Linked DNA regions of Homo sapiens: region 2 is linked to region 1. Evidence: fine-mapped expression QTL. Tissue or cell type: whole blood. Region 1 holds a variant in brackets; the other region holds the start of a gene. All regions are shown on one strand. Distances are between the middles of the regions.

The links. PIP is the estimated chance that this variant, and not a neighbour inherited with it, causes the effect.
Region 2: it holds the start of WNK2, and the variant in region 1 is fine-mapped to the expression of WNK2 in whole blood (TOPMed, PIP 0.96).

What each region holds. Positions count from the first base shown.
Region 1 is chr9:93,265,460-93,269,574 of GRCh38, forward strand. WNK2 (WNK lysine deficient protein kinase 2) reads left to right here. Exons shown (of 30, transcript NM_006648.4): 17 at 2,287-2,457; 18 at 2,561-2,606; 19 at 3,168-3,287. LOC124902214 (a long non-coding RNA gene) reads right to left here and starts at 3,202. Exons shown (of 2, transcript XR_007061668.1): 1 at 1,983-3,202; 2 at 1-121. The variant T/C (reference allele first, on the strand shown) is at 1,898.
Region 2 is chr9:93,182,283-93,186,397 of GRCh38, forward strand. It overlaps WNK2 (WNK lysine deficient protein kinase 2), which reads left to right and starts at 1,857. Exons shown (of 30, transcript NM_006648.4): 1 at 1,857-2,103; 2 at 2,646-3,328. The coding sequence starts at 2,648. RefSeq lists an enhancer at 3,895-4,115.

The DNA.
Region 1 (4,115 bases):
AAGCCTAGTTGGAGGGTCAGAGGCGTGAGCTGCGCTTTGGTCAGGGAGGAGTCTTTGTCAGCAGCAAGCAGCTGGTTCGTCAGCGCAGCACAAACACCAGGTCCTCACTGGGCCACTGAAACTGGAGAACATTTCTTCTCTCATCTTACTGTGTTTTAAACCTGTGTCTTGTATTACTTTATACACATGTGTTTCAAACATGATAAAGCATAATAATAAAGTGAACACCCGTGAAGTTATCACTCAGCCACCAGCTGATGCTGCATGTGCGGCTGACGCTTCCAGTGCTTGCCTGCCCGAGCAGGAAGCCACACATGCGACATCAGCCACATCAGCCTGTGTCGTGTCCACTGGCCCCCTGGTTTTCAGTCTTCTTGTGTGTCTCTGTGTGTGAGTCTTTGTGAGCTGCACACATGTAAGTCCTGCACAGTAAGCAATGGGGCTATCTTTAGCTGTGTGCTTTGTAAAAATAGCATCTTCTCAGCCTTGTTTTTTTCACTCAGCACTCGGATACTCCTCTCATTTTATTGCTTTTTCTGCCATCTTAGTAAACCAAGTCACCTAACATACCTGTGTGAAGTAAGCATGCTACAGATATACAAATTTGGTCCATAAAAACAGCCCAGCAGCCCTCCTCCTCACAGCCCATTCCTATCCCAGGGACAGACTGGCTCCAGAGGTTCGAGTTGAAGGGTGGGTGTGTGGCCTGTGGGACAGGCGCTGTTTAGACAAGCTTCTGCCCGCCCTGTGGACTGTCTTTCTGTGAGTGTGAGGTACCAGCTGTCCCTGAATGTCCCATCAGTGGTTAGAGGTCGGCAGGCCTTGGGTTCATCATTCTGACCATGACGACCTTGCCAGCCCCTTAGTAAAGGTGGAACTGCAGAAGTTTCATTTAATTGGCGTGGATTCTAATGCCAGGTTTTACCTGGACCTTGTATTTTTAGATTTTTATTTTGTTTTCAAGTTAATTTTATTCTCAACATACTTGAAAAGAAACATAATAGGAAAACATTTTCTAGTTGCAAAGGGGTTCTAGTTCAGTTTTGTTTAGTGAAAATTTCACAAAATTGGAACGTTGCTTAAATTCTCGTATGTGGCACTCCAGTCACAGCTGGCTGGATGTTCCAACTTTGGCCACAGTGTACTCCTCTTAGACAACATTGCAGTCACATGTTACACTAAATTAAGTGGTGAATCACGGAACACAGCACAAGCCAGCACTTTGTCTGGAGGTGTATGCAGGTGGTGCTCCTGGGGTTGGGGTCTGGGGTGCCAGGGGAGTGTGGAGCGCAGAGGAGCTCTGCTTTTCAGCCAGCTGTTTATAGTAGGGCAGATGTGCCCATCCTAGAAGGGATCTGAGACCACAGATGCCCCAGGCAGGGCCTAGAGCATCTCGGTGACTGCAGAGGTGTCTGCCTGGGAGGAGGTGCCATGGCAGGAAAGGGGCAGGGTCTGGACCCCACTGGGTGGTGGCACAGGCTGACCTCTTCCATTGGTTATGGTTTTATGAGATGCACAGCATTTTCTCTGCCTGAATGGCCGAGGATTTAGCCAGAGCCGGTGTGAGCCCAGGGCCACATGCCCACTGTGAAAGTTGGAGACTGTGGACATCTCCTGAGCCCCTGGTCTGGAGGCTTCGTGGCATTCAGGCTGTGGTGTGGGACCTCCCCTCAGCCATGACAGGAGCTGCTCGTTGGACATCAGGCCACGCTTGCCTGTGTGCCCGGGCCATAGTTGAAGGTCAAAGCCTGAGGCTGGGAGAGCAGGGGGTGCGCAGACCGACAGGTGACATATGGCCATCCTGCTATAACCTTCCCGTCCCCCTGTTGCTTTCTGTCCCCCACAACCTCCTGCTGGCTGGAACCTTTGCCTTCAAATCCATCCTTCTTGTCTGTCA[T/C]GACTGCCTGGGCACCTGTGCCCAGATGGACCCCCTCCCCTCTTCCCAGTCCCCGTCCTCGGCCCCCTGCATCCTATGCACTTACCTGTTCTGAAGATGGCTGGACCGGCCTCAGGGTCTGTAACCAGCTCCAGCTGGGGCAGGGCATTGCTGGCCCAGGTCCCATGCTTGGAGGAGGGAGTTGCTTCTCAAGATGAGGCTGCTCTCCTCCCATCCTGGGGCCATCCATGTCACTTGCTGAGCTGTCCAGCCCCTGTCTTGGGGACTGCACCCTTTCACCATTCTTCCCTTGGGGCCTGGTACAGGGTAGACATCCGTCAATCCAGATGAAGACCTAGGGTGGTCTTGGCCTTGCAGCTGGTCCTCACTGGCAGTATGTCCCTTTGCAGGTGGAGCATGACTTTATCCTGCAGGCCGAGCGGGAAACGTTCATCGAGCAGATGAAGGATGTCATGGACAAGGCAGAGGACATGCTCAGCGAGGACACAGACGCCGACCGTGGCTCCGACCCAGGGACCAGCCCGCCACACCTCAGCACCTGCGGCCTGGGCACCGGGGAGGTGAGGTTGTGAAATCCGGGGTGGGAGGTGGTGAGAGTGCAGTGGCTGGGCAGGTGGGCGCTGCAGCTCAGTGGGCTCATTTCTGACCCTCCACCTCATTCAGGAGAGCCGACAATCCCAAGCCAACGCCCCCGTGTATCAGCAGAACGGTGAGTCTGCAACTTCCCTCCCTGCTTTTAAGCAGGCGTTTGATGAAAGTCCCCACTCAGCATATTACCAGGGGTTTGGCCATTGCTTGGGGGGATTATGGAAGCATGTGGTGACCAGGGGCCCCAGTCTGGGGACAGCTGCCCTGTCCGAGGAGCTGTCACCTGCAACCGGCATCACGGCCTTCATGGATGGTGCCTTGGGCATCCCAGGAACCAAGCCTACGCGAGGGGTCCTCTCGGGAGCTTCGGGGGCTGCCAGTGAGGCACCCCAGGTTCTGCTGTGCACCCCTTGCCCTCTGGTGTGAGGGAAGAGCAGGCAGAAGCCCATCACCAGGGCCTCTTTACCAAGGAGCCTGGGGAACCACCTGCTTCGTGGAGGGAAGCGTTGGGGATTAATGACTGGGAACAGTGTTCTCTGCCCACACCCTTCCTGGAGAAAATCCCATAGGTGTAAAGGAGTTCACAGACCCACTGTGGCAAGTCTGGTGCAGGTGATGGGGGTCACACTGGCCTGGAAAGGCGCTCACTCACTCAGCGTGCTGTTTCTGTTCTGCCCTTCAGTCCTGCACACCGGGAAGAGGTGGTTCATCATCTGTCCGGTGGCTGAGCACCCCGCCCCCGAGGCCCCTGAATCTTCGCCCCCACTTCCTCTAAGCTCCCTGCCGCCAGAAGCCAGCCAAGGTATGAGCAGCAGGCGCCCACACAAGCCCCTCCCTGTTTCATGTACAGGCCTCCTTCTGTGCATGACCCAGCCGGTATGTGCCCCGTGCCCAGGTCCATGCAGGGGGCTCACCCTGCCCTGTCTCCCATGGCGCAGAGCAGCCTGTGGGGCTGTGTTCCTATCCTTGTTTTCTGCTGAATCAGCTCAGTCAAAGCAGCCTCCAGGTTTGAGTCTGCCCTGTTACCCCACCAAGTAGGTGGCTCGCATGGCCATATAGGTGTGTGTTGAAGAGCTCCGCTGTCCTTCCTTCACAGTGTTAACCTGGCAACTCCTTGCTCCTGTCCCTTTCCTCTGTGCCGCACACCTGCAGCAGACACGCCTCTGCTGGTTCTGCTTGCTTTGGGGGGTGGGGTGGGAAAGTCCCTGTTGGTGCTGAGACTCTGATTTTAAAGTGTTCACACAGACATTTATCACTGTGCATTGATCTGCACCTGCACCTGCCTGTACAGATGCCAACAAGCCCGTGCTTTGGGCTGTCAGTTAAATCTTGTTGGTCCTTTGGGAGGCTGAAAATAGTCACTTGAACAAATTTAAGGTTTAATTCCTTACCAGTTGGCAGGGGAAAGTTACTGATTCTATAACTTGACATAACCTTATGGCACATTCATGAAAAATATCTGTAAATCATTTTTAATTTTATGTCATGTGCTTCCAGTGACTCCCATTATCTTTTGGAGATTCGTTCCCATGGGGGACAGGTCAGCCTAATAACGAAATCCAAACAAAGCAACGAGCTGAAACAAGGTGATCTCAGGTAAAGGGCTTGGCCTCAGCCTGGGCTGAGAAAT
Region 2 (4,115 bases), 83 kb before region 1:
CCCACACACTGCCAGTGTGGCCTGTTGGGAGCAGGAGGAGGCCAGATAGGTGTGTGCTGGTCTCAGAACACGCTTAGCTCTGTCCCATCCTGGTTTTCCCTTGGATAGGCTTGAACACACCCATCATGAACAGGTCTGTGGACTTGGTGCCCTTCCTAGATTGACTGAATCTACAAGGAATTGGCAGCCTTTTAAGGTGGGCAAGTCAGGATGATCAGCCCACTCTGCAGGGCCAGATACTGAGGCTCAGGAAGGACCAGGACTTGCCCAAGTTCACTCAGCTGGTTAGGGGCAAGGTTGGGGGGTCTTTAGCCTCCAAAGGGAAGACAGAAAAGATCCTTTTCCACCCCTGACCTCTACCTGGAAGACTCCTGCCCCAGGAGATGCAACTTAGATCCCTGTCCCTCAGGCCTCTCTGTCCTGCAGAGCTGGCGTCTGCTGTTTGGCCTCCTCCTCGTGTGAGCTCTGGGCTCATGCCAGCGGACTTGAGCCCCGGAATGAATGCCTGTCTCACACGGTAGATTAGATTATATAAATAACAGGCAAGTGCCAAATGCATAGCCCTACACCTAGCACACTATTTAACCACTGGCTCTCTGGGGAGAAAAGTCCTGATTTGAGGTGTTTGCCAATTTCCGCAGTGTAAATACTCCCAGCATTGCTGACTTCAGGCTACAGGGTGGCATTGCTGAACCCAGAGCTGGGAAGGGATGTTCACTGTTGCCCCTCACAAATTAGTTTCAGCCAGTGCCAGTGCCCAGCGGGGCTCCAGGAAGTCCTGCTTCTCTGGGTAACAGTTGGCCTGGCATATTCTTCCCTCTACATTGTGAAGGTGAGATATCGCCTCTGCTGGCTTTTATGCCACATGAGTTATTTTGTGCCAGGGGCTCCAAGGCCTACAGGCCCACAAGCATCTTTTCATCTCTGGAAGTGTGTGTGTATCTGATGGGGGTGCCAGCCCAGTGGGATGGGGACTGAGATGAGAATACTCTGGTATCTCCCTTGTGCCTCAGTTTCCTCACCTAGGATCATGGAGGCTGGGGTAAGGGTGAAGTGTTAGCTCAGGGCATTGCCTGGAGCAGGGCTCAGAACTTAGCAGTATGGTTACTGACACAGGTCACCTGCTGCATTAGGGCCAGAGACGCCCAAGAGAGGGCTTGTCCGTGGGGGTCTAGAGGAGGAAGGAGCTAGAGATCATGGAAGACTTCTCGGGAGAGGTGGCATCTGGCAGAGGTGGGAAGGAAGAACACTTTGGGTCAAGGGGCTTCTGGAAGCCTCTCCATATCCCATCCAAGGCATTCCAGCTCAGCTTCGGTCTTGAAAGTTCTGGGATTTAGAGCATATAACTTCTGCCTTTGGCGCCTCAGTTTGCTCTAGACTGTGAAATGGGCATAATGATCACCAGTGCCTCCCTGGGTGATGATGAGGTCCTCATGGTTCCTGGTGGTGAAGTGAGGGCAGGAAAGGACACGCTGAGCCCCACCAGGCTTAGCCCCAGGCTGGGCTCCCGAGGGCGGCGGTACCCCTGGTCCTTTTCTTCCTAGCCTGCCCATTCTGTCCTGGCACAGGGCCTTGAGGTCTAGCGCGCCGGGCTGCGGCGTGCTGAGGCGTTGAGCCTGCTGCCTCCTCTCAGGAAGAAACGGGGTCCTCCGCAGCTGACAGCCCTGCGGGGCGTTCCAAAGAACTTCAGAGGACAGGAGCGCTACCTCGAGCAAAGAACCGCGGGTGGGAGCCCAGGTAGCCGGCCCGCAGGTGGCCGCGCGCGCCTGCCAGTCAGCCAGCCCGTCCGCAGCCAGGTGGGCGTGCCAGGCCCAGCCCCCTGCGCCGGTCCGGGGCGGGGCGAACGGAGCCCCGCCCTCCCCGCGCGCCGGGTCGGAGCCGGTGCGGGAGCGGAGCCGCGCGAAGCCGGCAGGAGCACGCGGGAGCGCGGCCCCGCAGTGGCCCGGCCCGAGAGAGCAGCGCGCAGGAGCTGGAGCGGCGCCACGGCCCCCACCCCAGCGCGGACCTCGCCCGGAACTCGGACCCCGTCCTCGAAGCGTGATCTCTCCCGCCTCGCACGCCCTGGCCGCCGGGCCGCGGGCATGGACGGCGTCCGCTCGCCCTGTGAGTGCCGAGCCTCCCCTCAACGCCGCTCGCCGCCTTTGTGTGCGCGCCGCGGCGCTGCAGCCCCCTCCCCGCGCGCCCCTCCCGCGCCCCGGGCCCGCGTCCTTTGTGGAGCCGCCGCCGGGCCACTGCCTTCCTCCCACCCCCGGGCTTCCCTATCCCCTTTACAGCTGCCTCCGGGACAGCCTAGCAGAACCCTCCTGGGCCAGGGCTGGGCAGGGCGCGAGATCCCTCTGCCGGCCTCCGGGGCCCTCAGGGACACCCTAGCAGGTCCTCTCTCCCAGGGTTCCAGGGACACCACAGGCCCGTCCCTCTCCGCAGCCTGGGGCTGAGCAGGGCACGGACCCCTCCTCCCCAACCCAAGCCTCTGGTCCCGTCTGCAGCCCCCCTTTCCCAGGGCCCCCAGAGACGGCCCCCGCAGGCTCTCTCCGCGGCCGGGGCTGGGCAGGTTGCGGGCTTAGGGCGGCGTTGTCTCATCCGGCGGCCTGGGCAGGTGCGGCAGGGCCGGCGCTCACGCGGGCCTGTGTGTCCTTGGCCCACAGAGATGGACGGCGATGGCGGCCGCCGAGACGTCCCCGGCACGCTGATGGAGCCCGGGCGCGGCGCGGGGCCCGCGGGCATGGCGGAGCCTCGGGCGAAGGCGGCGCGGCCGGGGCCCCAGCGCTTTCTGCGGCGCAGCGTGGTAGAGTCGGACCAGGAGGAGCCGCCGGGCTTGGAGGCAGCCGAGGCGCCGGGCCCGCAGCCCCCGCAGCCCCTGCAGCGCCGGGTGCTTCTGCTCTGCAAGACGCGCCGCCTCATCGCGGAGCGCGCCCGCGGACGCCCCGCCGCCCCCGCGCCCGCAGCGCTGGTAGCGCAGCCGGGAGCCCCCGGAGCCCCCGCGGACGCCGGCCCCGAGCCCGTGGGCACGCAGGAGCCCGGCCCGGACCCCATCGCAGCCGCTGTCGAAACCGCGCCTGCCCCCGACGGCGGCCCCAGGGAGGAGGCGGCGGCGACCGTGAGGAAGGAGGATGAGGGGGCGGCCGAGGCGAAGCCTGAGCCCGGGCGCACTCGCCGGGACGAGCCCGAAGAGGAGGAGGACGACGAGGACGACCTCAAGGCCGTGGCCACCTCTCTGGACGGCCGCTTCCTCAAGTTCGACATCGAGCTGGGCCGCGGTTCCTTCAAGACGGTCTACAAGGGGCTGGACACGGAGACCTGGGTGGAGGTGGCCTGGTGTGAGCTGCAGGTGAGGGTGCCCCAGCCCGCAGGGGGCTTTCCGCAGGGTCTGTCCGCGAGTGCGTCCTTGGGCCTGTCCTTGCTCCTGCGCCTGGCCTTAAGAAGCCCTGGGGGCGGCGGGGCTCCATGTGTGTCACCCTCTGTGTGGATGGCTGGCAGGATGCATACCAGGTGTGCGGACGGCATGTGGGGCCTGGCTGTGTCCGTGCGCAGGTTGCGGTTTGTGAGTCAGCTGGTGGCGAGGGCAGGCCTCTGTTGTGCGTTTGGTGTAAGTGTGCACGCTGTGGGCGTAGAGAGGGTCCTGGAGAGTGGGCCTCGGAGGCTGTGTCTCTTAGGCTGCTGCTTCTCCAGTCCCGATGACCTACTTTAATGACCCAGGGAGTCTGGACTGTTGTGTCTTTGCAAAACAGTGTGGAGGCTTCAAGGCCCGGTGTGTGCAGTCAGAGTGTTTTGGGGGCTCTGGGCTGCCCATAAATTAGTACTTTCCTGTGTCCAGCAAGCCGTGGCTGCCCCAGCAGGGATACCTGCAGAGACTTCTTCTGACCCAGGGCCTGTGACCCAGAGGTGGTGCCTGGTAGAGCTCTGGGGACAGCTGGGCAAGGCCTGGAAGTGTGGTTAGTCGCCTCTGCTGCTCTGAGAGCTCCATTTGTTCACAAAATGGACGTGTGAGAGGTCTTAAAACCGAGTCATGCAGAATGCGTGTGGGGGTTTTTCTTGGCTGCAGAGGCTCTGGGCATGCATTTTTCATAATCCTGCCATCACCGTGGTGTCAGCCCCAGCCCTGCAAGATTATATAA